Linked DNA regions of Homo sapiens. The gene in region 1 interacts genetically with each later gene. Each region holds a gene or a part of one and is shown in the gene's direction. Other genes may lie near its edges. The genes, in order: ATG7, DNM1L, NOL6, PDCL, ACTR2, LONP1 and MAP2K3.

Evidence for each region.
Region 2: of ATG7 (region 1) and DNM1L, changing one suppresses a phenotype caused by changing the other (phenotypic suppression), as found in Homo sapiens cells (one large-scale study listed by BioGRID).
Region 3: of ATG7 (region 1) and NOL6, changing one suppresses a phenotype caused by changing the other (phenotypic suppression), as found in Homo sapiens cells (one large-scale study listed by BioGRID).
Region 4: of ATG7 (region 1) and PDCL, changing one enhances a phenotype caused by changing the other (phenotypic enhancement), as found in Homo sapiens cells (one large-scale study listed by BioGRID).
Region 5: of ATG7 (region 1) and ACTR2, changing one enhances a phenotype caused by changing the other (phenotypic enhancement), as found in Homo sapiens cells (one large-scale study listed by BioGRID).
Region 6: of ATG7 (region 1) and LONP1, changing one suppresses a phenotype caused by changing the other (phenotypic suppression), as found in Homo sapiens cells (one large-scale study listed by BioGRID).
Region 7: of ATG7 (region 1) and MAP2K3, changing one enhances a phenotype caused by changing the other (phenotypic enhancement), as found in Homo sapiens cells (one large-scale study listed by BioGRID).

What each region holds. Positions count from the first base shown.
Region 1 is NC_000003.12:11,362,436-11,366,666, forward strand, and holds part of ATG7 (ubiquitin-like modifier-activating enzyme ATG7), read left to right. Parts: intron 1-377; coding exon 378-493; intron 494-2,223; coding exon 2,224-2,299; intron 2,300-4,231. UniProt on the Homo sapiens protein: E1-like activating enzyme involved in the 2 ubiquitin-like systems required for cytoplasm to vacuole transport (Cvt) and autophagy.
Region 2 is NC_000012.12:32,737,732-32,741,962, forward strand, and holds part of DNM1L (dynamin-1-like protein), read left to right. Parts: intron 1-133; coding exon 134-211; intron 212-532; coding exon 533-565; intron 566-2,332; coding exon 2,333-2,509; intron 2,510-2,677; coding exon 2,678-2,787; intron 2,788-4,231. UniProt on the Homo sapiens protein: Functions in mitochondrial and peroxisomal division.
Region 3 is NC_000009.12:33,460,328-33,464,130, reverse strand, and holds the end of NOL6 (nucleolar protein 6), read left to right. Parts: coding exon 1-94; intron 95-210; coding exon 211-300; intron 301-689; coding exon 690-884; intron 885-996; coding exon 997-1,098; intron 1,099-1,317; coding exon 1,318-1,467; 3' UTR 1,468-2,778; downstream 2,779-3,803. UniProt on the Homo sapiens protein: Part of the small subunit (SSU) processome, first precursor of the small eukaryotic ribosomal subunit.
Region 4 is NC_000009.12:122,821,870-122,826,100, reverse strand, and holds part of PDCL (phosducin-like protein), read left to right. Parts: intron 1-2,903; coding exon 2,904-3,085; intron 3,086-4,231. UniProt on the Homo sapiens protein: Acts as a positive regulator of hedgehog signaling and regulates ciliary function.
Region 5 is NC_000002.12:65,255,069-65,259,299, forward strand, and holds part of ACTR2 (actin-related protein 2), read left to right. Parts: intron 1-476; coding exon 477-626; intron 627-4,231. UniProt on the Homo sapiens protein: ATP-binding component of the Arp2/3 complex, a multiprotein complex that mediates actin polymerization upon stimulation by nucleation-promoting factor (NPF).
Region 6 is NC_000019.10:5,709,741-5,713,971, reverse strand, and holds part of LONP1 (lon protease homolog, mitochondrial isoform 1 precursor), read left to right. Parts: intron 1-718; coding exon 719-838; intron 839-1,969; coding exon 1,970-2,201; intron 2,202-4,231. UniProt on the Homo sapiens protein: ATP-dependent serine protease that mediates the selective degradation of misfolded, unassembled or oxidatively damaged polypeptides as well as certain short-lived regulatory proteins in the mitochondrial matrix.
Region 7 is NC_000017.11:21,305,000-21,309,230, forward strand, and holds part of MAP2K3 (dual specificity mitogen-activated protein kinase kinase 3), read left to right. Parts: intron 1-51; coding exon 52-129; intron 130-4,231. UniProt on the Homo sapiens protein: Dual specificity kinase. Is activated by cytokines and environmental stress in vivo. Catalyzes the concomitant phosphorylation of a threonine and a tyrosine residue in the MAP kinase p38.

The sequences.
Region 1 (4,231 bases):
TTTTCAAATCATTGTTCCTTTCTGTGTCTCTGTCACTTAACTACCAAGCACAGTAGAACTGAATTGAGTCACTTAAAGGAACACATGATGCAGTTCCATTATATGAGGCAGCTAAGCCCTCATTTTTGGTTAATATCCCCCAATCTGTTTAGGCTACTGATCCTTTTTAGCATATCACCTCATTTAGTTACCTAAATTGTATATTTTGTTTATCTTGATAATCTCAAGAAATGATGTACTTGAGGCTGGATGTTCTTTGCCAACAATGAGCATCTGGTTATAATTTAAAGCTTTGTCACAGAGGATTTCATACTTGAGACAGCTAGAGTTGAATGGAGTAGAACGTTCTGCACACACCAATGATTGTTTCTTTGCAGTCAACCAGAGACCGGACCTTGGACCAGCAGTGCACTGTGAGTCGTCCAGGACTGGCCGTGATTGCAGGAGCCCTGGCCGTGGAATTGATGGTATCTGTTTTGCAGCATCCAGAAGGGTGAGTTTGCTAGTAGGAGATGAGTATTTAAACAAAGCTTTTGTAGGCAGTTGTTCATCAGTGTCTCCCATGGCCTTTTCTCAGTCTGACTTTACAGAGAATTTCACTATTTCACCCTCAAAAAAACAAGACTAGAAAAAGCAGGTCTGGTTCTTTGGGCTGAGATAACTTGGCATGTTTCCTTTGTGGCCACATTTCTGCATCTTTCCGGACAAAGTCACTATGGTTTATTTTATTTTTCCAACGCTTATATAGGGCTTACTTTGTGCTAGGCACTGTTCTAAGCACCTTAGAAATTTTGCCTCCTTCAATCTTTTTTTTTTTTTTTAACGAGACGGAATTTCGCTCTTGTTGCCCAGGCTGGAGTGTAATGGCACGATTTTGGCTCACTGCAACCTCTGCCTTCTAGGTTCAAGTGATTCTCCTGCCTCAGCCTCCCAAGTAGCTGGAATTACAGGCATACGCCACCATGCCCGGCTGATTTTTGTATTTTTAGTAGAGATGGGGTTTTGCCATGTTGGTCAGGCTAGTCTTGAACCTCTGACCTCAGTGATCAGAAGTGATTCACCCACCTTATCCTCCCAAAGTGTTGGGATTACAGGCGTGAGCCATTGCACCCGGCCTCCTTTAATCTTCATAGCAAACATATTAGGAAAGAACTATTATTATTAGTCGCAGTTTTGATGGGGAAATCAAGGCATAGTGAGGATAAGTAAGTGGCCAAATTTACATAGTAAATGGAAAAGCCAGGGTTTAGCTCAACCAGTGTGGCTCCAGACTATGTTTAATGACTTTGTTATGCTGTTTGCAATACAGGCAGCAGAAAATCGAATTTTTGAAAGATTTATTTTTCCAGTTCTCAGAAAGTCAATATGCAAATTAACATGAATATTCTATTTCTTGTGTGACTCAAAGCTTTCCTCAGCAGTTGAAAATTGTGGTTGTATATGTAACTAGTATGGGTACTCTGAGATAAATGAAAAGCGGGGCTTTTTTGTCTTCCTCTTTGTCATCCACCTTAGCTATCTGTCATTTAAGTTTATTGCCACTCTCTGACAGGAAGTATTTGGGATAAAATCTTTGAGAGCTGACTTTATGCTTCCTTGACACTGAGCCTCTGTCTGCCACATTTGCCCTGGTCATAGTTTAAACACCAGGTCCTGTGTCACATCTTTTTGGTGCCACAAGTATCACTCCATTGTTCAGAGAGTAGTGTATTAGTTCTGCCCAATTCATTCTTCACTTTTATTTCTTCCATTTCATTAGCATTTATATCAGCTCAAGAAGTTAAGGTTAGAAAATTTTCCACTTCAAATTTTCAGTACAGAAATGTGCTGTGATGTTTGACAAGACTATTTCATAGTAAGTGAGTTAATGTTTATTGGCCTCTGATATGCCGAACATTGCACTCGGCAGTTGATGTAGTAGATTCCTCATTTATTAATCAGAGCTCCCTCATTCCTACTTTATAGATGATGGATCTGAAGCACAGAAAAGTTAAGCAACTTGCCTATGGTCACAAGCTCAGGTCTTTCTGACTCCAAACCATGCATGTTTAAATTACTCTTCTTGCCCTTTGTCCCAGGGAAATTAGTTTTTTGCTAACTTACACTGCCCAGCAAGGGGCATTTTAGTTATCCTTATGAATCTTATGTAGATTTCTGCTAGATCATCCTCCCATGTGTTAAACTTGGATTAAATGAGCAGCTCTGATTGTTTCCTGTCCTCAGGGGCTATGCCATTGCCAGCAGCAGTGACGATCGGATGAATGAGCCTCCAACCTCTCTTGGGCTTGTGCCTCACCAGGTTAGTGATGTGGAAGTGAAATCACAATTCTTTTGGTACAGGGGGAAAGCATGTGGGGTCTCTTTGCCATTCCATCTGCCCAGCCCACTTCATATCCACCCTACTTACCCTGCAGCTGGGATTTCAATGGGAGAGCTTTCTGACCACCTGGAAGGTATTCCATTCTGCGGGATAGTGATGGGAGGAAATCACGAACGAGAAGCATTGCCCAGAGTCTTTGATGCGTTTTGTAAACTGACTAGAGGCCTCATAATGCAATAGGAACAGAAAAAACAGGCTTTGGAATCAGTCATACAATGGTTTAAATCCCAGCCCTGCCGTTATAAAGATGGCCTTCTTTGGCCAAGTCACTAAACTTCTCTGAGGCTTAGTTTTCTTATCTGTAACATAGAGAAGGTAATGCTGACATCACCTGGTAGTTGTATGGATTATGGATGGTTGCTAGAAAGGGCTCAGCAACAGTGTATATCATAGGCCCTCAACAAACAATGCCTGCTGTTTCTTTACTGTTGCTTGTTATTATTATTGACTCTGAACCCAAATAGAAAACCTTTATAGGCAGGCATGAGAAAAACATTAGAAGCATGCAGGGTCACCAAAAAGTGGGGTGTCTTTTCAGAAAAAGAATCCAAAGCATCATGAGGAAGTTCCATCCCTTAGGGAGTAAAAAGAAAAAGGCAGTGGGATGATCTTTTAGAATTCATGTTGCCTCTTCAGTCATTTTCATTACTATATTTTTGGGAGATTGAAGAGGTTTTCCAGTCTTATTTGGAAATCATTTTTTTTTAGATTCCATGTATGTATCCTCTCCTGTAATGTGACTGCTGTTCCCATCAGTGAAATCGTGATGGTGCCCACCAGTCCTATCTGGTGATTTGCAAGGACAGACTCAGACGAGTGCAGAGAGCAGAGTGACTCAGCTCATGCTTGTCTCTCTCTTCCTCCTCGCCACCCACCTTCTGCCAGCTAGGGCGGCACTGTCATATTCAGTTTAGGATGAGAATCAGAAGAGGGGAAACGACTTCTTCATGGTCACAGAGACTTAGTGGATGAGCCACAATCCATACCTAAACTTGGCAGTCTGACAAATGTTCTTTCAAAGGTCTTGTGAGTTGAAAGATCCGTGGCCTGCATGTTGGGAGATTTTGCTTCCTGTTGGTACCCCAGCCCCCTTGCACAAAACCACCCATAATAGAACTTGTGGGCCGGGCGCGGTGACTCATGCCTGTAATTCCAGCACTTTGGGAGGCCGAGGCGGGTGGATCACGAGGAGAGGAGTTTGAGACCAGCCTGACCAACATGGTGAAACCCCGTCTCTACTAAAAATACAAAAATTAGCTGAGCGTGATAGTGTGCACCTGTAATCCCAGCTACTCAGGAGGCTGAGGCAGGAGAATCGCTTGAACCCGGGAGGTGGAGGGTTGCAGTGAGCTAAGATCGCGCCATTGCACTGTGGCCTGGGCGACAGAGTGAGACTCCATCTCAAAAAAAAAAAAAAAAAAAATAGAACTTGTAGAGTTCACTTAGCCTCCCAGAGTCTCAGTTTCCAAATCAAGAAAAGCAGGTGCTTTACTTTGTGTCCAGGATTACATCTGACACGGCCTTGAAAACCACAAAACACTATGAAAATGTGCCCCCCTCTGTCCCCCACACACAAGGTGGCATTTTTTTTTGACATGCATGTGTTAATCTTTTCTACAGAGACATTTCACGTAGGACCCAAAAGACGCGGTAATAACCATCTATCATAAGGAAGCTGATCTCCAGAGCCTACCTCTGCTATTTATGCTGTCGTATCTCATTTGAATCTTTCCCAAGTCTCCCGCCTTCTTCTGACCTTGAGATGTGCCCTCATCTCCTTTACAGACTTTATATTGAGAAGGGCCTTAATTAAATTTTCAGTCATGCCCCTGCACTGGTTTCCTTCTTTAA
Region 2 (4,231 bases), on another chromosome or scaffold:
CTCCCATGATTATTTTCATCTTTCATGTTATTTTACGATTTCATTACAGAAGGGAAAAATTCATTTATAGAATGTTCCTGAATGCATTTTTGCATCCTTGATTTTTTTTCCCCCCTGGATTTTTTGCCTTTAGTCTTCTAAAGTTCCAAGTGCTTTGGCACCTGCCTCCCAGGAGCCCTCCCCCGCTGCTTCTGCTGAGGCTGATGGCAAGGTCTGTTCTGATTCTTAATCTAAGCCTGCATGCCTTGTTCTCTGGTACAACATAATCTTCTGGAAACAATACACTGAATAGAAGAATATTAATATGGGATACTGTGCTAAGGTCAGATCACTTTAGTCTAATATATATTTTAAAATTATATAACAATGCAATGCATAGTTTATATTGTTGACATGCTTTTGCTTGCAATATAGAAGATGCACACAGAAAAAGTAATTTAAAGAGGAAATTATCCTGCACTTTTTGAATTTCAACCCATTGGTATTTAAATTTTGCTTGTTAAATTGCATGTTTTAACATATCTTTTAACAGTTAATTCAGGACAGCAGAAGAGAAACTAAAAATGTGAGTCTCTTGCTTCAGAATGGAAATGTTGGTACCTTTGGTTCTCACTGAAACACTGTCTATACCACCATTAAAGAACCTGTTTGTGTAGTGGTATCTATCTCTTGTCTGTGTTATGTTCTTAATGTTCCTTTTATCTAACCTGTGGAAGATGGCATTAAACGTTGTTTTAATTAGTAACAATAATAGGCTTTCTCACTGTTTTGTTACCTTCAAGAATAGTTTTAAATTTAGTATTTTGGTAGGAAATTCAGAGATTTCCTAGATTTCAGAGATGGAATTGTATTTTTGGACATTTCCTTTCCTCTTTAAAGATCTTGAGATCTGTTCAGTACTAATAGATCTAATGCTTCTTTCTTATGCTTCCAGTTAGTTTGCACTTGTTACCCTATATATAGCTTCACATATGCTTCAGAAGCTTAAGCAAATTAAAAAAACAAATGGGGACTGTGAGAGTTTGAGACTGTTTTCAATTCTTGATAACCATTTTAGAGGAAAATTAAATAATGTATAAATTATTCAGACTCATCGCTATTTCAAGATTTTCTGCCATTTAGCTCCTTTCCTTAATTATCCAGATTTAAAGTTCTGAACTTCAAATAAAGGTTTATAAATGTCTTATCTTCTCTCAGCCCACTGTGCTCAGATATTAATCAAACCATCTAAATCACTGCACAAGTTTTATTTCATTCATGACGTCACACTGAATGTGCTCTCTCTCCTTAAGATTTCATTTGGTATGTCATTCATGTATAGTTAACAAACATTTAAAAATCTAATTACTCATTTTTAAGTTAATGTGTAACATAAATATACTACTTATATTTAAATGTAGTTCACCTTAACTGACATACTAAAGACAGATTTTAGCAAATATTTTGATTCAGAATGATACCTCAAACTACCATTTTTCTAACTGCCATAATCCTCTATTAAACTTATATAATCCATTTTTAGATTGTAAGATCTTAAAGAATACCTAAAAAAAACCCTCTTAAATGTTGATGAATTGTTTTTCCATTATAAAGTCATTTTTGACTTTTAGAAGTCAAGACTAATACATTTTCTAGAAAACAAGGTACAAAAGCACTTGTGATTAATGGTAGCACTAGATTTCTTTCAGCAAATCCTTAAGAGTACAGAGGTTGAGGGGACTTCTGTTGTTTGTCACATTCCGCATTTGAAACAACTCACAGTGACTGTCAGCCTAAGAATAGCAAATGTAGTCTTGCTTTTTGTTAAAGAGTTCTTACTTATACCTTATGGCATTTTTGTTGACTATTAGAAATGTAAATTGAGAAACATATAAACTCTTAAGTTCAGAGACGTAAGTTCATGGAACTTTTAGAGTTTAACAGTGTTAATGATTACTTAAGAAATTAAACTGAATAGCAGTTCTTTGTGCTTTTAACGAGTAGTTTTGTTTTTAAGGGCAGCATATACTTTTCCTACAATTTAGTGTTTGAAGGGTGGGAGAAGAGGAACGATTTTGAAAAGTTAGCGAATGATAAAGAAAAAAGGAATTAAATAGAACATAAGTTGGTTGATGCCTTGCAAACAACTTAGAGCAGAACTTCTTTATTATTTAGATAGGTCAGGGTTCCAGTTATACATGCTACCTAGTGTCTCCTTCTGACCTCATTATCTGTCTGAATAAACTTCAGATGGGTACTGGATGTATATTGACTACTGTCAAATAAAATGAACTTTGTTTTAGTTAAGGTCAGATATGATGTGGTTGGTATGTTTTGGAACATGTTTTTTCAGGTTGCATCTGGAGGTGGTGGGGTTGGAGATGGTGTTCAAGAACCAACCACAGGCAACTGGAGAGGAATGCTGAAAACTTCAAAAGCTGAAGAGTTATTAGCAGAAGAAAAATCAAAACCCATTCCAATTATGCCAGCCAGTCCACAAAAAGGTCATGCCGTGAACCTGCTAGATGTGGTAAGCCATGACAATTTGGTTTAGGTAATAAGGTAGGTGACCAAGTTAGTAGGAAAACGATTAGACAGAAAGAACTAAAAGTCTCAAAAACTTACATAACTTTCAGATGTTAAAGCTGCCATTTTAGTGTCACAAAAGTAATATTTTTTCCCCCTCATCCCTATTTAGCCAGTTCCTGTTGCACGAAAACTATCTGCTCGGGAACAGCGAGATTGTGAGGTTATTGAACGACTCATTAAATCATATTTTCTCATTGTCAGAAAGAATATTCAAGACAGGTTAGTATTACTTAATATAAATGACGGACTTTAATACTTCTGGATGATTCTGTGATCTGTTTTGAAAAATACATGTATTTTTACAATTTTAGGTTTTTATTCTAAATCATCAAGTGGATTTTCTGATAGTCCTTGGGTAACTTGTAGCAAGACCCATTTTGTTAACATAGAATGACTAGGACCTCATGTATCAGCTAGAAAAAGCTATTAAAAATGAGAGATTCTTTTGTTCTATCTGGCTGCCACATTTTGAGTCATTTAAGAAAATCTTTTTCCTAAATTTTAATTTAGTAGTTTCATTAATTATTTTGGCTAGTAACACTGACTTGCCTTTTTAATTTAACTTGGTTTTCCAAAGTATCAAAACGAATGTCTTTTACTAGGAAATATGTGTATTTTTTCTCGTTCAGAATGTTTTTTCATGTGTCTAGTCCCTACTGCATCTTCTCCTTCATGTTGCCTGGTATGTCATTTCATGCAGTAATAGGGAGAATATACATTTAGTTGTGTGAAGTGATCTATTAGAAAATATTCTGCATCCAGTTTTTGGTAATCTGTCAGCAGCTAAGATGAATTTTACTGCACAGAGTAATAAACAGTCTAATACTTCATATTGAAATAAATGATTTTTGTCTGTAGAACCATTTATCTTTTTTGCTTGTAGACTTTTTAAACCCGTAGCTTGTAGTAGAAATAACAGTTCCTAGTGTTTTACACTGTGGGCCTGAAGAAAAAAATTCCATTTGTTTCCTTCCTTGCCCCCATCCTCTGCAGAAGGTGTTTTTGAGATGGAGTCTCGCTTTGTCGCCCAGGCTGGGGTGCAGTGGCGCAGTCTTGGCCCACTTCAACCTCTGCCTTCTGGGTTCAAGCGATTCTCCTGCCTCAGCCTCCTGAGTAGCTGGGATAACAGGTGTGCACCACCATGCCCAGCTAATTTTTGTATTTTTAGTAGAGACGGGTTTCACCATGTTGGCCAGGCTGGTCTCGAACTCCTGACGTCAGGTGATCTACCTGTCTTGGCCTCCCAAAGTGCTGGGATTATAGGCGTGAGCCACTGCACCCGGCTCACTTAATGTTTTTAAGCCTCATCCATACTGTAGTATGAATCAGTATAGTCACGCACCACATAACATTTTAGTCAACAGACCACGTATTTGAATGTGTTCCCGTTAGATTATGATACCATGTTTTTGCTGTACATTTCCTATGTTTAGATACACAAATACTATTGTGTTACAGTTCCCTATTCAGTACAGTAACATGCTGTACATGTTTGCAGCCTGGAGCAATAGGCTATCCCATATAGCTTAGGCGTGTCATAGGCTATACCATCTACGTTTGTGTAAGTACACTCTGTGCTGTGCATGTAATGAAATCACCTAATAATGCATTTCTCAAAGCATATCCGTGTCATTAAGTGACATATCTTTTGTGTGAATAATAC
Region 3 (3,803 bases), on another chromosome or scaffold:
CCTGGCAGCTCGGGCACAGCTCCCCGTCATGGTCATTGTTACCCCCCAAGACCGCAAAAACTCTGTGTGGACACAGGATGGACCCTCAGCCCAGGTTCAACCCCATACCTGCCCCCTAATGTGTGGTTTTCTTCCCAAGGAAAAAGCAGGCCCAGCCTGACCTGGGAGAGACCCACTTCAGTTCCAGTCTGATGTGTCTGTACCCCGCAGATCCTGCAGCAGCTTGTGGTCCTGGCAGCTGAAGCCCTGCCCATGTTAGAGAAGCAGCTCATGGATCCCCGGGGACCTGGGGACATCAGGGTAAGCTTCTGACCAGCAGTGACTCCAGGGCCTCTGGGGATTCTGTCTTTGGAAGTTCAGCGTTCAGGGATCTCACAGGAGACCCGGTCCCCTTGTTTGGTGAGACTGAACAGAGGAGGTGTTGAAGCTGCTGTGGTGCCTGGGGTGGCAGAGCCTGGGGAACCTGGGTTCCATCTGGGTCTCCTGTTTCTAGCCTGTGCTCCTTCTGCCGGGCTATGCAACAGCTGTTTGCTCTGTGGGTCTTGGTGCTTCAGTCTTCAAATGGGCAGGTGGGCCCATAGAGGGTGGTCAGATGGAAGGAGGAAACCAAGGTGGGCGTGTGGAGAGGTTTGTGGTCCAGTTCCTCAGTCAAGGGGGTCCTGCTGACCCCTCCTTCTCCCCTTCCTTAGACAGTGTTCCGGCCGCCCTTGGACATTTACGACGTGCTGATTCGCCTGTCTCCTCGCCATATCCCGCGGCACCGCCAGGCTGTGGACTCGCCAGCTGCCTCCTTCTGCCGGGGCCTGCTCAGCCAGCCGGGGCCCTCATCCCTGATGCCCGTGCTGGGCTATGATCCTCCTCAGCTCTATCTGACGCAGCTCAGGGTTGGTCCTAAACAGCTGAATGACCTGGGGAGGGGACTTCCAGGTGAAGCTGAGGCTGTGGAGGAGCTCTTAAATGCCTGCCTATAATCTTCTCTGTTCTGTCCCTTTCTAGGAGGCCTTTGGGGATCTGGCCCTTTTCTTCTATGACCAGCATGGTGGAGAGGTGATTGGTGTCCTCTGGAAGCCCACCAGCTTCCAGCCGCAGCCCTTCAAGGTGTGCTGGCTGGTGACAGCTGTGTTCCTGAGTGTGTGCACGTGGTTCTGTGTGGGCATGCATGTCTGTGTGTAGTCTGTCCTATGGGCAAACCCGTGTCAGGTGCGGAGTGTATGGGCTTGTGTTTCTATCCCCACCACCCCCACTCTGTACCCAGCTTGGTGTCTCTGGGTGTGCCGCTGTGACACTCAACCCACATCTCTTCTCTGATTTCCCCAGGCCTCCAGCACAAAGGGGCGCATGGTGATGTCTCGAGGTGGGGAGCTAGTAATGGTGCCCAATGTTGAAGCAATCCTGGAGGACTTTGCTGTGCTGGGTGAAGGCCTGGTGCAGACTGTGGAGGCCCGAAGTGAGAGGTGGACTGTGTGATCCCAGCTCTGGAGCAAGCTGTAGACGGACAGCAGGACATTGGACCTCTAGAGCAAGATGTCAGTAGGATGACCTCCACCCTCCTTGGACATGAATCCTCCATGGAGGGCCTGCTGGCTGAACATGCTGAATCATCTCCAACAAAACCCAGCCCCAACTTTCTCTCTGATGCTCCAGCATTGGGGCAGGGGCATGGTGGCCCATGTAGTCTCCTGGGCCTCACCATCCCAGAAGAGGAGTGGGAGCCAGCTCAGAGAAGGAACTGAACCCAGGAGATCCATCCACCTATTAGCCCTGGGCCTGGACCTCCCTGCGATTTCCCACTCCTTTCTTAGTCTTCTTCCAGAAACAGAGAAGGGGATGTGTGCCTGGGAGAGGCTCTGTCTCCTTCCTGCTGCCAGGACCTGTGCCTAGACTTAGCATGCCCTTCACTGCAGTGTCAGGCCTTTAGATGGGACCCAGCGAAAATGTGGCCCTTCTGAGTCACATCACCGACACTGAGCAGTGGAAAGGGGCTATATGTGTATGAATAGACCACATTGAAGGAGCACAATGCCCTCCTGTGTTGATGCCACTTCCCAGGGTGGAGACAGTGGAAAAGAACCGAGGACAGGAAAGGATTGGGTAGGTGAAGGGGTCAGGGGACTGGTAGTCACCCAATCTTGGAGAGGTGCAAAAAGCACTGGGGGCTACCCGTTAGCTGCATCTGCCCTGGCTGTTTGCCCGTTCATGTCACAAACTGCCACTACTATGTACCTGCAGTGGGGTTGCAGAGATGGGGGAGACTCAAGTCTTACTCCCCAGGAGCTCCCAGGGCCCAAGGAGGAGAATGCTGCCTCCTTTCAGTCTGGTCTACACCCACTTTCTGGTAGCCTCTCTGCTTCCTGTAATTCTGGCTGTTTTTCCAGACTCAGCTCAAATAGTGCCCCTCCTTAAGCCCATCCCTCGCCCCCAGCCTGAGGTGATCTTTCCCTCCTCTGAACTATTAGAGCAGTTACTGTCTGTTCAGTTCGTTTGGCAGGCACACACAGTGGCATAAATTCTATTGTTTTGAACTCTGATTTAAAATTAAATTGCAGCTGGGCGTGGTGGCTTATGCTTGTAATCCCAACACTTAGGGAGTCAGGAGAATCACTTGAGCTCAGGAGTTCTAGACCAATCTGGGCAACAGAGAGACCCCATCTCTTTTAAATAAAAAGTTAAATTGCTTAATTTCCCCCGTATTCCTGGCCTGTCTGCCCCTTTCACATAATTTTAACCTGGTTTCTTGTATGTAAACTCCTTGAGGGCAAGAACATGTTTGAACATAGACTTCTTCGTGTCCTTCCTAGCACCTATTACAGTGCTTTGCTCAGGGGCCATCCAGCACAGGCAGATGGGGGGCAGAGAAGCCCACTGGAAGATTGCAGAGTAAAGGGAATCCATTTGTGAAATCTGCCTGCAAGAAGTGGGTGGTGACGGTGAAAGAGAAAGCCTAAGAGATTATAGAGTTGACGTTTATTGAGGGCTTAATAGGTGCCAGGCGGGGTTAGGTGGTGGTATCCGTATCTTATGTGCGGAAACTTGTCGTACAGTCATAACGAGCCGTATGGAGTAGGTACTTTCATTTACCTTCATTTTCTGAGTGAGAGAACAGGCTCAGCGCAGGGGCCCGTTGTGTGAGGAACTTTGATGCCTGGCTAGCAAGCTCCATCCTCAAGATGAGAAGCTGCATGTGGGAACTCTGGCCTCCAGTTCTGTCTCAACTGTTGGTCTTTGTGAATCACTGCTTGCCTCTACTGTCACTGCCATGGAGCAGCTCAGCCCAGGGTTGAAATTAGAATAGGGAGGGAATAAATTGGCTGGCTGTGTGAGCTGGAGTCCACATCTCTCCCTCTGCTATTCATTCTTGAGCTTCAAGCATCAACGTGCCAGGCTTTATTTTCCAGGAGTGAAATGTAATCCCATCCCTTGTGGAGCCCCGTGGTCCATGGTCACCCTTGGCTCTTCCTCTTGCCTCCCTTGGTCCCTTGGACTATTTGTCCACAGTCACTCCATGGGCTCCTGGGAGGGCCAGGGTTGCTGGAAGCCTAGCAGGAATCCTTATGTGTGAGCAAGTGTACACAGGATAATGGTTAAGCATCCTCATGGATGTGCCTGCCTTGGCGGGTCTCTGCCTTTAACTTTGCAAGTGTGGCAGATCACCTGTTTCATCTCCAGGTCAGTTGTCTGTAGCTTCAGGCCCTTCACAAACCCAGCTCTTGATTATCCCCATGGGGGAGGGGGTGGAATCTGCCCCCAGGCAGGACTGTAGCAGGTGGCTCTAAGAGGTGCAGTTACCAGTCCCAATGGGAAAT
Region 4 (4,231 bases), on another chromosome or scaffold:
TTGTTTTTTAAGACAAGTTCTCACCTTGTTGCTCAGGCTGGAGTGCCTTGGTGCCATAATGGCTCACTGCAGCCTCAACTTCCTGAGCTCAAATGATCCTTCTGCCTCAGCTTCCATGAGGTTCCTCTCTTAAAAAGCTGGGACCACGTGTAGCTGGGACCACAGGCGCTTGCCACCGTGCCCAGCTAATTTATTTCTTTATTTTTTGTAGAGATGGGGTCTCACTTTGTTGCCCAGGCTGGCCTCACACTGCTGGCCTCAAGCGATCATCTGCCTCAGCGTCCCATAGGCATGAACCAATGCACTGGGCCCATATTTATTTTTAAGAGGGAACCTAAACTTCTTTTCATAATTTTAAGAGAGATTTTTATATCCTTTGCTCATTTAAAAAATTAGGTGTTTTTTTTCTTCTTGGGGAGCTATAAAGGAAATTAATCTGTGATATGAGTGGTAAATATTTCTTTCAGTTTGTTGTTGTCTTTTGACTTTATATTCTTTTGTTCTTTTCCTGGATGAAAAATTTTATTTTTATGTACTTAAAAGTATTTTATAGTTTCTTAATTTTGCATTTTACTTAAAAGGCGTTTCTTCACCCTACTTTATAAAGGGCCTCACTTTGCTGTATAAAAAGGTTCTCCTGGCTGAGCACAGTGGCTCACGCCTGTAATCCTAGCACTTTGGGAGGTTGAGGCGGGTGGACTGCCTGAGCTCAGGAGTTCGAGACCAGCCTGGGCAACACAGTGAAATCCCGTCTCTACTAAAATACAAAAAGTTAGCCAGGTGTGGGGGCATGCGGCTGTAGGCCCAACTACTCGGGAGGCTGAGGAAGGAGAATTGCTTGAACCCCGGAGGCAGAGGTTGCAGTGAGCCAAGATCATGCCACTGTACTCCAGCCTGGGCAACAGAGTGAGACTCTGTCTCCAAAAAAAAAAAAAGATTCTCCTATACTTTTCATTAGTATTTTTGTGATTTCATTTTTTACACTTAAATATTGATTCATGTGGAATTCACTTTGATGCAGGGTGCAGTAGGGCTCCAGTTTAATTTTTTTTTAGATTGCTACTCAGTTGTTTCAGTACTGCTTAGTGAATAAGCCATCTTTATTATCTTGAGATGTCACTTTTATTATGTACTGAATTTCTCTGTTTATGTTGGGTCTTTAGCTGTACTATGTGGTCTCTTCCATTGATTTGTCTTTTACTGGGCTGTGTCATACTGTTTTTAATTATTGTAGTGTTATATTTTAGTATTTGGTGAGGCTAGACCCTCTTCAATTAACTTTTGCTTTATTTTTTCCAAAGGAAATTTAGGAGCCGGACACATATGTGTGTTCATGTATTTTCATTGGGAATGCATTAAATATATAGATTAATTTAGGGATCATTGGCACTTTTGTGATGTTGAGTATGTCTGTTCAGGAACATGGTATTGCTTTTCCATTTATTCAAGTCTTTCAAGTATTTTTTGGGAGCATTTTAAAGTTGTCTTCATATAGATTTGTATATTTTTTTTCTGTGAAACCAATAGACTCCAAAGCTTTAGTGGCTTATGGCAACAAAGGTTTATTTCTCATTCACGTTACATGCAGCCTGTAGGTCAATGGCAGCCCTGCTTATGTTTCGTATGTTCTTTCATCTAGGAGCTAGGCTGAAAGAATAACAGCCTCAGTTTGGCTGTGTCCCTCTATTTAGGACACACCGTTTTCATGGCGAAGCATAGAGAGCAAGAGAGGAGCTGTTGGAAACATGGAATGGCTCATACACGGCATACTTTTTGTTTTGCTCAGACATGGCATACTTCATATTTGCTCACAATCCCATTGGCCAGCAAGTCGCATAGTCAAGCCCAGCCTCAATGGGCTGGGGATATATGTACTCATCCCACAGGAGGTACCACAAGTCACATAGCAAGGTGCAAGGACATATAAGTCCTTCGGCAGCACAGGGCTTGACGGGTTAAGGGTAGCTGGAATAACAGAACAGGTTGTATTACAATCTTGTTATAAAAAAATTGTTATAAAAAATTCAGAGGCCAGGTGCGGTGGCTCATGCCCATCATCCCATAGCACTTTGGGAGGCCGAGGCGGGCGGATCACCTGAGGTCAGGAGTTGGAGACCATCCTGGCCAACATGGTGAAACCCTGTCTCTACTAAAAATACAAATATTAGCTGGGCATGGTGGCGCATGCCTGTAGTCCCAGCTGCTCGGGAAGCTGAGGCAGGGGGATTGCTTGAACCTGGGAGGTGGAGGTTGCAGTGAGCCGAGATCGCGCCATTGCACCCCAGCCTGGGCCACAGAGCAAGACTCAATCTCAAAAAAAAAAAAAAAAATTCAGATAATATAGAAGTACAGAAAGAAAAAAGTAAAAGATCTCTCTCACCAGTTGCTTAGATCCTACTACCTGGAGACAACCACTGTTAACAGCTTACATATCCTGCAAGCTCTTATTCTATAAACACACAAGTGTATATACAAACATGTATGCATATCTATGTACATAAATTATGTATATACATACAGGTCTTTTTTAATAGAAACTAGAGGATTGTACCGTGATATTCTAAATTTTGCTTTTGTAATAACCTCATATATTTGGAATATCTTTAATGGCAGGAAACACAGAGCTGCTTTACTCTAAGAGTTGCTTTATTTTCCTTTGAGTAGGTAGATGATAATTTTTTAAACTCATCTCCTAATGTTGGGCATTAGCTTGGCCCTTGTTGCAGGGTACATCATTGTGTATAGGCCACTCTGCCCTGTGGCAGAGTACACAGAGTCCCTATGATAATTGTGCAGTAGATGGAGCAAGCTTCAGGCAGATGTGAACTCCTACCTACAGATGTCAGCTGGTCCATAATTCCCTGCCCATTCTCCTTGGTCACATCCGTGTTCACCCTACTCAGGCCCAAAAGGTGTGATCAATGACTGGCGCCGCTTCAAGCAGTTGGAGACAGAGCAGAGGGAGGAGCAGTGCCGGGAGATGGAAAGGCTGATCAAGAAGCTGTCAATGACTTGCAGGTCCCATCTGGATGAAGAGGAGGAGCAACAGAAACAGAAAGACCTCCAGGAGAAGATCAGTGGGAAGGTAATTAGCAGTACTCAGGCTTTTCTTAGAGTCTGCTGTGGCTGCTAGAGCTGGGTGAGTGATTCAAGAGGTGGAGGATGCTTGATTTGACCTCCAAGAAGTTGTGCAGTGCAGGAGAAATCATAGAGCCCTGTCAAAACTCAAACCCACCCAGCTTTGGATCTCAGTTCTGCTACTAGTGACTGTGGGAGAGTCTCTTCCCTTCTGAATCTGGTGTTTCAATGGTTAAATGATGTATCCTCCCCGTGCAGGGCTGTGTTGTTAATATGCCCATCACAGTGTCTGGCCCATTGAAAGTGCTCAGTAAATTTTAGTTTCCCTTCTTTTATTGAGGTTTTATCTTGGGCCAGAAATAACCCTCTTAGGGTGGTGGTATTATCCCCTTCTTACAGATAATGGAAGCAATGCTTAGAGGGCATTAGAGGCTTGTTCAGGGCAATGCAACTGGTAAATTCTAGTAGGCGCTAGGGTTCTAACCCAAATACTCCTGTTTCTTCCATGATGTTGCTATTTCATCTGAAGCCTATTCATGAGAATTTATTCTAAGGAGGCATTATAATAAGCAAACAGATACTCTGGAAGATATTTGGAAGTAGGCACCTGATGGCCTTTTTTTTTTTTTTTTTAATAGAGACAGGGTCTATGTTGCCCAGGCTGGTCTCGGAACTCCTGAGGTCAAGGGACCCTCCCACCATAGCCTCCCAAAGTGCTAGGATTACAGGCGTGAGCCGTGGTGCCCGGCCCGTGATGGCCTCTTATCCTATCAGTATTAAAAGGGATTCACTGTTTCTCTGGATGCCCTCTGAGTGTGGACGAATGTCTGTGAGTGCCTGAGATCATTTAGTTATGGCCCAAAGCTAAAATACCACACAGGATCAGGGAGCAGATAAGAGGATTAAGCTGGGAATCATTCACCTTGACCAGGAGGCTGATTTTAGGACATTACACTTAGCCAAAGACTTCAATAGGTCAGAAGAAGCCACTCTGGTAGACTGAGTTGAAGTGGAGGGCTGCAAGATGGGAGGAAAATTGGCAATAAGTAAAATAGTGAACTCAGAATGTTGCTGGTTATGATAAAGTAACAACGTGTTCTGATCTAGTGTGATCTCCCACTCCCTGTTCCCTAATCTATGCAACATTAGGCAG
Region 5 (4,231 bases), on another chromosome or scaffold:
TTATCATTCGTTAAACAAATGCTATTGTCCTTCTAATATGTGCCAGACACAGTACTAGAAGCTAAAGATAAAACTTTTAAAGACTTGGGGGCATTTCATAAATATGGCATTAATTGTGTGAGCAAACTGCAGGCTACAGGAGTCCAGTACTAAAATAATATTTATTCATTAATATACTTTTGATTGTTTATCAAAACTATCAAAACATTAGTACTCATGCAGTGCTTTTCAAAAACTGACTTTTCTAGTCATTTTACTGACTTACTTATGAATTGTTAATTCTTTTACCCTCTCTGAAACTGAAATATAAATCCTTTTATGGCGGATAAAATCCTGCTTCTGAAATAGTAGGAGCTGAGGATCCACTGCCCATTCTGTTTGTTATTGATGTGACATATTTAATGAGCATTACTAGCTTTTGCAGAGTAGAACTCATTCAGATGTATTATGAACTTATTGCTATTGTTTTGTACCAGCTACTTCTGTTGCGAGGATACGCCTTCAACCACTCTGCTGATTTTGAAACGGTTCGCATGATTAAAGAAAAACTGTGTTACGTGGGATATAATATTGAGCAAGAGCAGAAACTGGCCTTAGAAACCACAGTATTAGTTGAATCTTATACAGTAAGTGTTTCCAGTGTATAATATATATGTGTTTTAAAGTGGACAGCCATGATTATTGGTGTCAGCTTAAGGAGGTTTTCTTAGAATCAGTATTTTTGTCTTGGGTTGTTGTAATATGTATATGTGTGACTTTTAATGTCTCTTTCTACATTAAGTTTCTATTTAATTATTTTAGGGCACCATATAATGCAAATTAAGGCAAGAATCATAAATTACTCTCTATACTAGGATATAATTAGATGCGAGATGTTATTTTGAGATTCTAGTATTTGGCATAGCATTTCTCAATGTATGTTTTACAGAACTTTATTTCCCTGAGATGCTAATAAGCATTTCACAAAAATTAAAAAGGATTACATTGTCAGATGAGTTTGAGAAAGAGTTGATTTCACTTCACTGTAGAACTCAGAGCCTTTGGTATGCTAATATGGGCACAATTAATATAGTATGCGTGTTTTTCAGACTTATGCTCTAGGACTTTTCAGAATTTCATGGGATTAGTGATCTAAGAAACATACTTTGGAAATGGTCATTCTAGAGCATTGCTTTACTAATTCAGTAGGTGGCAGCCTTTCCTGACTTAATATTCTTTAATGAGGTGTTAAATGTTAACTTGAAATTGTAACTAATGAGATTTAGTACCTGGTTATAGTTTATAACACCAGAGGAGTTGATCCTACTTGAATTTTTAATGAATTACCATCTTAAGCCTATTAAATTTGTCTGAGTATAAAGTACTTCCAGGTCTCATCTTTGATCTAGTTATTACTAAAATGAAACAGTAATAGGCAATGAAGGCAAGTATTTTAAAACCATATGATGCATACTAGCTCTACATATTCACAAATATATGCAAAATAGTCATTTTTAAAGTAATTATAAAAAATTTGTTGTTGGCCGGGCGCGGTGGCTCACGCCTGTAATCCCAGCACTTTGGGAGGCCGAGGCAGGCGGATCACCTGAAGTCAGGAGTTGGAGAACAGCCTGGCCAACATGGTGAAACCCGTCTTTACTGAAAATACAAAAAATTAGCTGGGCAAGGTGGTGGGCACCTGTAGTCCCAGCTATTCAGGAGGCTGAGGCAGGAGAATTGCTTCAACCCAGGAGGCAGAGGTTGCAGTGAGCTGAGATCGTGCCACTGCACTCCAGCCTGGGTGACAGAGCAAGACTCCATGTCGGTAAAAAAAAAAAAAAAAAAAAAGTTAAGATAGTGATCCAAATATTCAGTAAACCCCCATTTAAAATTTTTTTAAATTTATTTTTTATTATACTTTAAGTTCTGGGATACATGTGCAGAAAATGCAGGTTTGTTACATAGGTACACATGTGCCATGGTGGTTTGCTGCACCCATCAACCTGTCATCTGCATTAGATATTTCTCCTAATGCTATACCTCCCTCCCCTTGCCGCCCCCCACCCAACAGGCCCCATGTGTGTTGTTCCCCTCCCTGTGCCCATATGTTCTCATTGTCAGCTCCCACTTATGAATGAGAACATTTGGTGTTTGGTTTTCTGTTCCTGTGTTAATTTGCTGAGAATGATGGTTTCCAGCTTCACCCATGCCCCTGTAAAGGACATGAACTCATTCATTTTTTTATGGCTGCATAGTATTCCATGGTGTATATGTGCCACATTTTCTTTATCCAGTCTAACGTTGATGGGCATTTGGGTTGGTTCCAAGTCTTTGCTATTGTGAATAGTGCTGCAGTAAACATATGTGTGCATGTGTCTTTATAGTAGCATGATTTATAATCCTTTGGGTATATACCCAGTAATGGGATCGCTGGGTCAAATGGTATTTCTAGTTCTAGATCCTTGAGGAATCACCACATTGTCTTCCACAATGGTTGAACTAATTTACACTCCCACCAACAGTGTAAAAGCGTTCCTATTTCTCCATATCCTCTCCAGCATCTGTTGTTTCCTGACTTTTTAAGGATCGCCATTCTAACTGGCATGAGATTTTGTGGTTTTGATTTGTATTTCTCTAATGACCAGCGATGATGAGCTTTTTTTCTTATGTTTATTGGCCACATAAATGTCTTCTTTTGAAAAGTGTCTGTTCGTATCCTTTGCCCACTTTTTCATGGGGTTATTTGTCTTTTTCTGGTAAATTTGTTTAAGTTCCTTGTAGATTCTGGTTATTAAGGCTTTGTCAGATGGATAGATTGCAAAAATTTTTTCCCATTCTGTAGGTTGCCTGTTCACTCTGATGATAGTTTCTTTTGCTATGCAAGAAGCTCTTTAGTTTAATTAGAACCCATTTGTCAATTTTGGCTTTTGTTGCAATTGCTTTTGGTGTTTTAGTCATGAAGTCTTTGCCCATGCCTATGTCCTGAATGGTATTGGCTAGGTTTTCTTCTAGGAGTAAACCCATTTTGTAACTTAATCATCTCCAGATTTGCTCTGGAGATTCCTTCCTGAAGTCTTCTTGACAGTTTCTCTAGTTGTCTGATTTTCCATCTACCTGACTATTTTGGAAGAAAGTGGCTGGCACAGGGCAAAAGATAAGCAAACTAGGAATGTAAAACATGTTTTATTTCTTCCTTCTCTCTTTTCTCAAAGAATTTGAGGTAGGCTACAAAAATATATACAAATAGGCTGGGTGTAGTGGCTCACACCGGTAATCCCAGCACTTTGGGAGGCTGAGATACGAGGATCACTTGAGGCCAGGAGTTCATGGCCAGCCTGGGCAATATAATGAGACCCTGTCTCTACAAAAAAAATACAAAAATTTGCCAGGCGTAGTGGCACGTGCCTGTAGTCCTAGCTAGTTGAGAGGTTGAGGTGGGAAGATTGCTTGAGCCCAGGAGTTCAAGGCTCAAGTTTTGAGGCAGAGAGCTAGGATTGCACCACTGCACTCCAGCCTGGGTGAAGGAGCGAGACCCTGTCTCAAAAACAAAACAAAATCCATATATATATTTGATATATATATGCACACACACACATATACACAAGTATAAAGTAATAAGCTGATGAATAAGTGAGGAGGGACATGGGTGGACAAATACAGAACAGGATAAGATTTGGTGCAAAGAAATGGGATGCCTGCAGTTTTAACAGTTCATTAAGGTGATTAGAAAACTTGACCCCATGCTGGCCAGCAGCCAGAGAATGGAGAGAAGCCACACTATCAGGCTTCAAGTGCTTAAGGCAGGAGGTTTTGCTAATAAGATCTGCTGTGTGAAGTTTTTCCAGATATTTTGGGTGATTTCATGTGAACCCACCTGAAGGTGGAGGTGGTTTTTTTAAGGGTATAAGTTTTGGTAACCTTTTTTTTTTCTTTCTGTTTTGAGACAGGGTTTCCTCACTCTGTTGCTCAGGCTGCAGTGCAGTGGCATGATCTCGGCTCACTTCAGTCTCAATCTCCCAGGGTTAGGTGATCCTCCCACCTCAGCCTCCTAGGTAGCTGGGACCAAAGCTGGAATCTAAACAATCATTGTAATTGGCCAGGCGCGGTGGCTCTTCCCCATAATCCCAGCAATTTGGGAGGCCAAGATGGGAGGATCATTTGAGCCCAGGAGTTCAAGACCAGTCTGAGTAACAAAGCAAGACCCCCGTCTCTACAAAAAATAAAATTAGCCAGCCATAGTAGTGTGCATCTG
Region 6 (4,231 bases), on another chromosome or scaffold:
CGGGGGAAATTAACTTCAGGGACTCTTAGTGATGAAATGCTCCATGAGGCTACCTGAAAGTCGAGCTAGCTGCTCGGAGATGTGGCTCCATGTAGAAATGAGTTCCATGGGCCGGGCGTGGGGTCGCACACCTGTAATCCCAGCACTTTGGGAGGCTGAGGCATGTGGATCACCTGAGGTCAGGAGTTCCAAAGCAGTCTGGCTGACATGATGAAACCTCGTCTTTACTAAAAATACAAAACATTAGCCAGGCGTGGTGGCAGGTACCTGTAATCCCAGCTACTCAGGAGGCTGAGGAAGGAGAATCGGTTGAACCTAGTAAGTGGAGGTTGCAGTGAGCTGAGATTACACCATTGCTCTCCAGCCTGGGCAACAAGAGCGAAACTCCATCTCAAGAAAAAAAGAGTTCCATGCATGCATTCGAAGCAGGCTCTGTGATAGCATAGAAGAGACTCATCAAAGTCCCACCTGGACCATGTCTTTGTGGCTGACTTAGCGAGGAGCCACCCACCCGGTCCTGTGACCACTGGGGCAGCCCTGGCCTGGCAGAAGCTCCCCTAGGCTCTGGAGCTCCTGCGGGAGCCAAGGAGGCCGCTCTTGGTTTTCAGTAGCATTTGGTAGGGGCGTTTCTTTTCTCTCCCTCCTCCATCTCAGCCAGAGACATCCTGCCTAGCATGAAAGCCATGTTCCAACATTCCTCTGTGCTCTTCTCCCACAGCAATGAGTCGGATGTGGTCGAGAGCCTGGATGAAATCTACCACACGGGGACGTTTGCCCAGATCCATGAGATGCAGGACCTTGGGGACAAGCTGCGCATGATCGTCATGGGACACAGAAGGTGGGTGGCTGGCGGGGGACAGTGGGAGGTGGGGGCAGAGTACCACGCGGGAGACCAGCCAGGATGCCTTATGCCCCAGCATCAGCCTCTGCCCTGTCCGTCAGCCCAGCGGCTTTCTCACTAGCACTGAGGCCAGAGCTGGGGGTGAGAGTGAGACATGTCACCTCTGGACCCCTCCTGTCTCAGAAAGGGGTGAGCTGCAGGGCCAGGCATGGTGACTCCTGCCTGGAATTCCAGCACTTTGGGATGTCAAGGCAATTGGATCGCTTGAGCCCGGAGTTTGAGTCCAGCCTGGGCAACGTAGCGAGATCCCATCTCTGCAAAAAATGTAGAAAAATTAGCTGGATGTGGTGGCTCATGCCTGTGGTCACAGCTACGCAAGAGGCTGAGGTGGGAGGATCGCTTAAGCCCAGGAGTTTGAGACCAGCCTGGGCAACACAGCAAGACCCTGTTTCTATAAAAAATAATAAAAAGTTAGATGTGACGGCGTGTTCCTGTAGTCCCAGCTACTTGGGAGGCTGAGGCAGGAGGATTGCTTGAGCCCAGGAGGTAAAGGCTGCAGTGAGCTATGATCACACCACTGCACTCCAGCCTGGGCAACAGAGCGAGACCCTGAGTTCAGGTGGTGCCAGGTGCTCTGAGGGGAGACGCAGACAGCGTGAGAGGTGGAGGTGGGTAGCTTTTGTGAAGTGCTTGGGGACAGTCTTTGCGATGGTGTCCTTGAAATCGAGACCTGAACAACAGGAAGGAGCTGCTATGAGCTGAGTCCAGGGCACAGAGTCTTGGAGACCAGCCTGTGCCCGGCCAGGCTGACACCGTTTTCGACAGGAGGCCCTGGGGCTTGTCACTGCAGCTTATCCACGATACTTAGGATGGGGACAGTGATGCATTGGCGTGGGATGCAGGGAATGCCTGAATCTGGCTGGAGTCTAAGGGGTGGAGGGGACACTGGTTGGGAGGCCCCGAGAAAGCGGCTCACGTCTCCAGCTTGAGGACCCTGTAGCCACCCTGTGGCTCCAGAGGTCTGGGCTCAGCGGGACCCTTGGACCACCTGTGCCACCAGGGAGGCCTCAGCCGGGTCCAGCTCCCAGCCTCAGCGGCTGATTCACACCTGCCTTGCTCCCGTGTCAGAGTCCATATCAGCAGACAGCTGGAGGTGGAGCCCGAGGAGCCGGAGGCGGAGAACAAGCACAAGCCCCGCAGGAAGTCAAAGCGGGGCAAGAAGGAGGCGGAGGACGAGCTGAGCGCCAGGCACCCGGCGGAGCTGGCGATGGAGCCCACCCCTGAGCTCCCGGCTGAGGTGCTCATGGTGGAGGTAGAGAACGTTGTCCACGAGGACTTCCAGGTCACGGAGGAGGTGAAAGTGAGTCCGTGCGTCACGCAGGGCGGCCACAGCTGCCTCCCCCACGGGCTCCCTTGAGCCGTTCCTGCGGCCTCTCCGAAGAGTCATCTCCCACCCTGAGCCCCTTAGGAAGGGTCTGGCCTGTCTGGAACTCAATTCTAATGGAACATAGAGGGTGCTTTTCCTCCCAGAGGTCTTCGGAAGACTCTGGGATGGGAGAGGCACAGGAAATTCGCTGGAGCCTGTAGCTGCTCAGGAAGGAGACAGGGTTGGAACCCAGGTCCAGCCCCAGCCCGTGTCCCCTGTGCCAAAGCCTCCAGCGGTTACCAAGACACCTTCCAGCCCTGGCTTCTTCCCACCAAGCCTGGGAGGTTGGTACCAGTGGTTGCAGGACAGGAAACAGCCTGTTGGCCACCCTGATCCCCCAACCTAGGCCGTCCTGCCTGCCTGGTGGCACAAGGAGTCAGCTTCCGAGGTGGGCAGGCTCTTGGCGGTGCCACCTGCCCTCCCGCTGTAGGGACAGTCAGCGAAGCTAACCAAAGGCCTGAAGCGTGTCAGCTCCTTACCTGTGTGCCTGGTGTCATCAGCCTCTTCCCCAGGCTGCTGCAGGGCCTAGGGGGAAGTGCTGTGAGCAACTGGTGATGTCTGCTGTGGGCGCTGGCAGGGGTGGAAAGTCCTGTCCACAGGCCCACCTGGGTTCTTGAGGTCAGCACTTCTATCCTGCCCCACTACCCCTGCGAGGTTTTTTTTTTTCTTTCTTTTTTTGAGACAGAGTCTGGCTCTGTCAACCCAGGCTGGAGTGCAATGGAACGATCTCAGCTCACTGCAATTTCCACCTCCCAGGTTCAAGTGATTCTCATGCCTCAGCCTCCCAAGTAACTGGGATTGCAGGCACGTGCCACCACACACGGCTAATTTTTGTATTTTTAGTAGAGACGAGGTTTTACCATGTTGGCCGGGCTAGTCTCAAACTCCTGACCTCGGGTGATCCGCCCACCTCAGCCTCCCAAAATGCTGGGATTATAGTCGTGAGCCACTGTGCCCGGCCACCTGTGAGTATTGAGCACTTGAAGTAGAGCTGCTGTGGCCAAGGAACAGAATGGAACATTTTATTGGCTGGGTACAGTGTCTCATGCCTGTCATCCCAACACTTTTGGAGGCCAAGGAAGGAGGATCACTTGAGCCCTGGAGTTCAAAACCAGCCTGGGCAATATTGAGACCCCTGTCTCCACAAAAAAAATAAAATCCCTGGGCATGGTCGCACACACCAGTGGTCTAACCTGTGGGAGGATCGCTTGAGCCCAGGAGATTGAGGCTGCAGTGAGCTGTGATCGCATCACTGCACTCCAGCCTGGGCAACAGAGTGAGACCCTGTATCTAAAAATTAAAATAAAAAAATTCAGGCCGGGCACGGTGGGCTCACGCCTGTAATCCCAGCACTTTGGGAGGCCGAGGTGGGCGGATCACCTGAGGTCAGGAGTTTGAGACCAGCCTGACCAACATGGAGAAACCCCGTGTCTACTAAAAATACAAAAAAAAATTAGCCAGGTGTGGTGGCTTATGCCTGTAATCCCAGCTACTCGGGATTACTGAGGCGGGAGAATTGCTTGAACCTGGGAGGCAGAGGTTGCGGTGAGCCGAGATTGCACTATTGCATTCCAGCCTGGGCAACAAGAGCAAAACTCTGTCTCAAAAAAAAAAAAAAAAAATTCAGACAGCCACCAGCGGCTACACTGTCCTGGGCAGCTCAGCATTGGGGCATTCCCTGTGAGAATCTTGCAACAGGGGGAAGACAGCGACCAAACTTACAAATGTGATTAGAACTGGCAAGACCCCTTAGGGGCAGCGAACTTGTTCTTTTTTTTTTTTTTTTTTTTTTTTTTTGAGATGGAGCCTCTGTCGCCCAGGCTGGAGTGCAGTGGCGTGATCTCGGCTCACCGCAAGCTCCACCTCCCGGGTTCACACCATTCTCCTGCCTCAGCCTCCCCAGTAGCTGGGACTACAGGTGCCCGCCACCACACCCGGCTAATTTTTTGTGTATTTTTTAGTAG
Region 7 (4,231 bases), on another chromosome or scaffold:
ATGGGGGCTTACCTGGGGCGGGTGTTCACGCCTCACTCTTCCCTCCTGCAGCCTGAGAGGATCAACCCAGAGCTGAACCAGAAGGGCTACAATGTCAAGTCCGACGTCTGGAGCCTGGGCATCACCATGGTACTGTGGGGGGCCAGGGCCTGCCCTTGGTGGTCAGGTGGGGTGGGTGGAGCCGTGCCTGGGGCCCTGAGCTTTTGGGGGACTCATCAAATAGTTTAGGTTCTGGAAAGAAGTATTGGCTTCAAAATCTGAGAAGAAAATGTGCCATCAGAAATTACCATCTATTTAAGGGAACCTCCTAGGGTCAGGGTCACTCATCGTGAAGTCCTGGGTGCTTTGTGATATGGTGGCCACAGGGCTTTCTCTGGAGTTCTTGGTGCTTGTTGAGAAATCACAGCCAATCCCAAATTACGTAAGTTCCTGGTATGTAAATCATGCAAAAGCAAGATGGTAAAGATCTTTTCAAAAATATTTCATAGCAGAAGGTTTGTTGTCGGTGGCGTCCTGGTACATTGCGGTGGGGTGGTAGAAAGGGTGGGCGGGCTCTCAATCCTGGGCCTGTGGAAGCCAAAGGCATCCCTGGCTTGGGTAGGGTGAGGGCAGATGTGGCAGAAGTCCGAAGTCCAGGTGTAGGGATGGGCCCAGAGCAGTTGCTTCTGGAGTTGCCTGGCAGAACCCCATGCCTTCCGTGTTGGGGCTCAGGTCAAGGTGTGGGTGAGCCCGCTCTGGCTCCCCTGTGGACAGTGGATTGGAGGGATGGGAAGACCACCAGGATGTGTCCCCCAGCCAGGGCTAGGAAGCTGTGCAGGAGACGCGTGGAAGGACGATGCCATCAGCAGGTCGGGCTCAGGCTGGTGGCCTTGGCCAGTTGAGTGGCTTGGGACCAATGGAGTGTCCTGGGCGTCAGCTCCTTCCCTGCCCAGGGAAGCCTGGCCCAGGACATTCCTGCTTGTCCCTAGTCCCTTTGACTGTTTGGTGTTGGGGATGAGGCCGTCAGATAGAATCAGTAAGATGTGGTGAGAAGCGCTGGCGGGGTGTTTTCCAACACCGCAACCCATTCTCGGATTCTCCAGACACCCACCCAGTGCCCTGCAGTTCCGTTCGGTTCTGATGCTACCTGGAGTTCGCACAGACCCCACAGGTTAAGGGCTCTGTCCCACCAGACTGCCCCCAACATCACACACCAGTTGGAAGTAGCGGGTCTCCCATACTACTGGACTGACCAGCTACAAATTGGGGGTCCCCATGACCCTCTCGTAAGGTTTGATAATTTCCTAGAATGGCTCACAAAACTCAGGGAAACACTTTATTTGTGTTTACTGGTTTATCAGAAAGGATATAACTCAGGGCCAACCAGATGGAAGAGACTCACGGGGGAGGGGTGTGAGTGTGGGGTGCAGAGCTGCCGTGCCCTCTCAGGGCCTGGCACCCTCCTGGTACCTCCCTGTGCTTGCGAACCTACAGGCTTCTCAAGCTCATGGAATTTTGTTGTTTTTGACACAGAGTCTCACTTTGTCACCCAGGCTGGAATGCAGTGGCACAATCTTAGCTCACCGTAACCTCTGCCTCCTGGGTTCAAGCGATTCTTGTGCCTCAGCCTCCCGAGTAGCTGGGATTACAGGCACCACCATGCCCAGCTGATTTTTGTATTTTTAGTGGAGATGGGGTTTTGCCATGTTGGCGAGGCTGGTCTTGAACTCCTGACCTCAAGTGATCTGCCCGCCTCAGACTCGCAAAGTGCTGTGATTACAGGCATGAGCCACCACGCCCAGCCTCACATGGAGAGGTTTTTTGTGAGAGAGGGTCTCACTCTGTTGCTCAGGCTGGAGTGCAGTGGTATCATCGCAGCTCACTGCAGCCTTGAACTCCCAGGCTCAAGCCATCCCCCTACCTCAGTCTCCTGAGTAGCTGGAACTACAGGTGTGTGCCCCTATGCCCAGCTACTTTTTTAATGTTTTGTAGAAAAGGGGTCTCACTATGTTGCCCAGGCTGGTCTTGAAATCCTGGGCTCAAGCAATCTGCCTACCTCGGCCTCCCAAAGTGCTGGGATTATAGGCACAAGCTACTGCACCCACTGAAAGTTTTTATAGAGCACAGTCTCCAGGCCCCCCTCCTCTCAGCATCAGTTGGCGGGTGATGCTGAGAGTTCCCACCCTCTATAATCAGCTGGGTTTTCTGGGGAGCAGCCCCATCTGAGGCTGTCTAGGGGCCTTACCCTGAGTCACCTCATTAGCATAAACTCAGGCTCCTTGTGGATAACAAAGCCACTCCTGTCACTCAGGAAATTCCAAGGGTTTTAGGAGCTCCATGCCAGGAACAAAGACCAAATAAATTCCTTTTTATGCCACGGGGGTGGAGAAGACTGGAGCAGGTAGGGGTGGCTCTGGGGACAGGTGGAAGGCCACTGTTGCAGATGCGGAGGCCTCTGCAAGGAGGGCACCCTGCTGACCTGAGGGCAGGGTAGACCAGGGGGTGCAAGTGCAAAGGCCCTGAGGTGGGGCTGTGCCTGCTGTGTGCCTGGGTGGCTGGGTCAGAGGAGAGGGAGGGAGGGTTGGGAGCGAGCGAAGAGAAGTGTCTGGTGGGTAGAGAGTTGACGCAGGTGTTGTGGGTTTTACTGGTGTTGCTGCTACCATTGTTATCATCATCATGTGGTTATAACTTTATTTATTTTTAATTTTTATTTTTTTGAGATGGAGTCTCACTCTGTTGCCCAGGCTGGAGTGCAATGGGACGATCTCGGCTTACTGCAACCTCCGCCTCCTAGGTTCAAGTGATTCTCCTGTCTCAGCCTCCTGAGTAACTGGGATTACAGGCTCGTGCCACCATGCCCGGCTATCTTTTTTTTTTTTTTTTTTTTTTTTTTTTGAGACGGAGTTGCACTCTGTTGCCTAGCCTGGAGTGCAATGGCATGATCTCAGCTCACTGCAACCTCTGCCTCTCGCGTTCAGGCAATTCTCCTGTCTCAGCCTCCCCAGTAGCTGGGATTATAGGCGTGAGCCACCACACCTGGCAAATTTTTGTATTTTTAAAAAAGACGGGGTTTCACCATGTTGGCCAGGCTGGTCTCAAACTCCTGACCTCAGGTGATCTGCCTGCCTCTGCCTCCCAAAGTGCTAGGATTACAGGGGTGAGCCACTGTGCCTGGCCTTTTTTTTTTTTGAGGGAGTCTCACTCTGTCGACCAGGCTAGAATGCAATGGCACAATCTCAGTTCACTGCAACCTCCGCCTCCCAGGTTCAAGCAATTCTCTTGCCTCAGCCTCTCAAGTAGCTAGGATTACAGGCATTTGCCACCATGCCCGGCTAATTTTTGTATTTTTAGTAGAGACGGGGTTTTGCCATGTTGGCCAGGCTGGTCTCAAACTCCTGACCTCAGGTGATCCACCTGCCTCAGCCTCCCAAAGTGTTGGGATTACAGGCGTGAACCACCACGCCCAGCCTTGAGCCACTGCGCCTGGCCTGTGGCTGTAACTTTATAAATAGTGTATCTGTAGACAGTGACTGGGAAAGACTCAAAGTCGAAATAATTTTGTCAGAGAGGTGGGACTGGGCCATACCTTCAATTTTCTTTAATTGGTGACATGTAATTTTTCAATTAAAATTTTTTTTTTTTGAGGTGGAGAGGAATATTCAGGCTGAAGGCAGGTGCTGTATCTGCAATAACAGTTTTCCAAGTCCTAAGTTTGATGCAAAGGACAAGTTCTTGCTGTATTTAGACTGCACAGAACTGGTTGGATATTAGAGACCCTGCTCATGACTACCTCACACATACACACACCCTATGTCCCTTCCCCATCTCCCTGTCTCCCTTCCAGTTGTCCATCCATCATGATTGTTGGGGCCACCATGGCTAGTGGCCTTCTGATATGGCTGGTGGAACTTGGACAAGTGTGTGCTAAGTGTATATTTCAGTTATCAAATATTGCATAGCAAACCACCCTAGAACCTAGTGACCCAAACCAACAGCGGTTTCTTATTTCTCATGTTTCCACCACTGTGGCTGGGCTCAGCTGGATGGCTCTTCTGCTGTACCTGGGATTGGCTGGGGTCATGGCTGGGCTGGGCTGGTCTGGAAGGCCCAAGACGGCCTCACAAACATGGGCCTCCTCTGCCTGGCCTCTCCATGCAACTTACTCACATTGGCCTGCTCCCTGGGCTTCAGAGCATGGCAGTGTCAGCAGAGTTGGAGTTCTTTCATGATGGCTGGCATCTAAAAGGAAGTT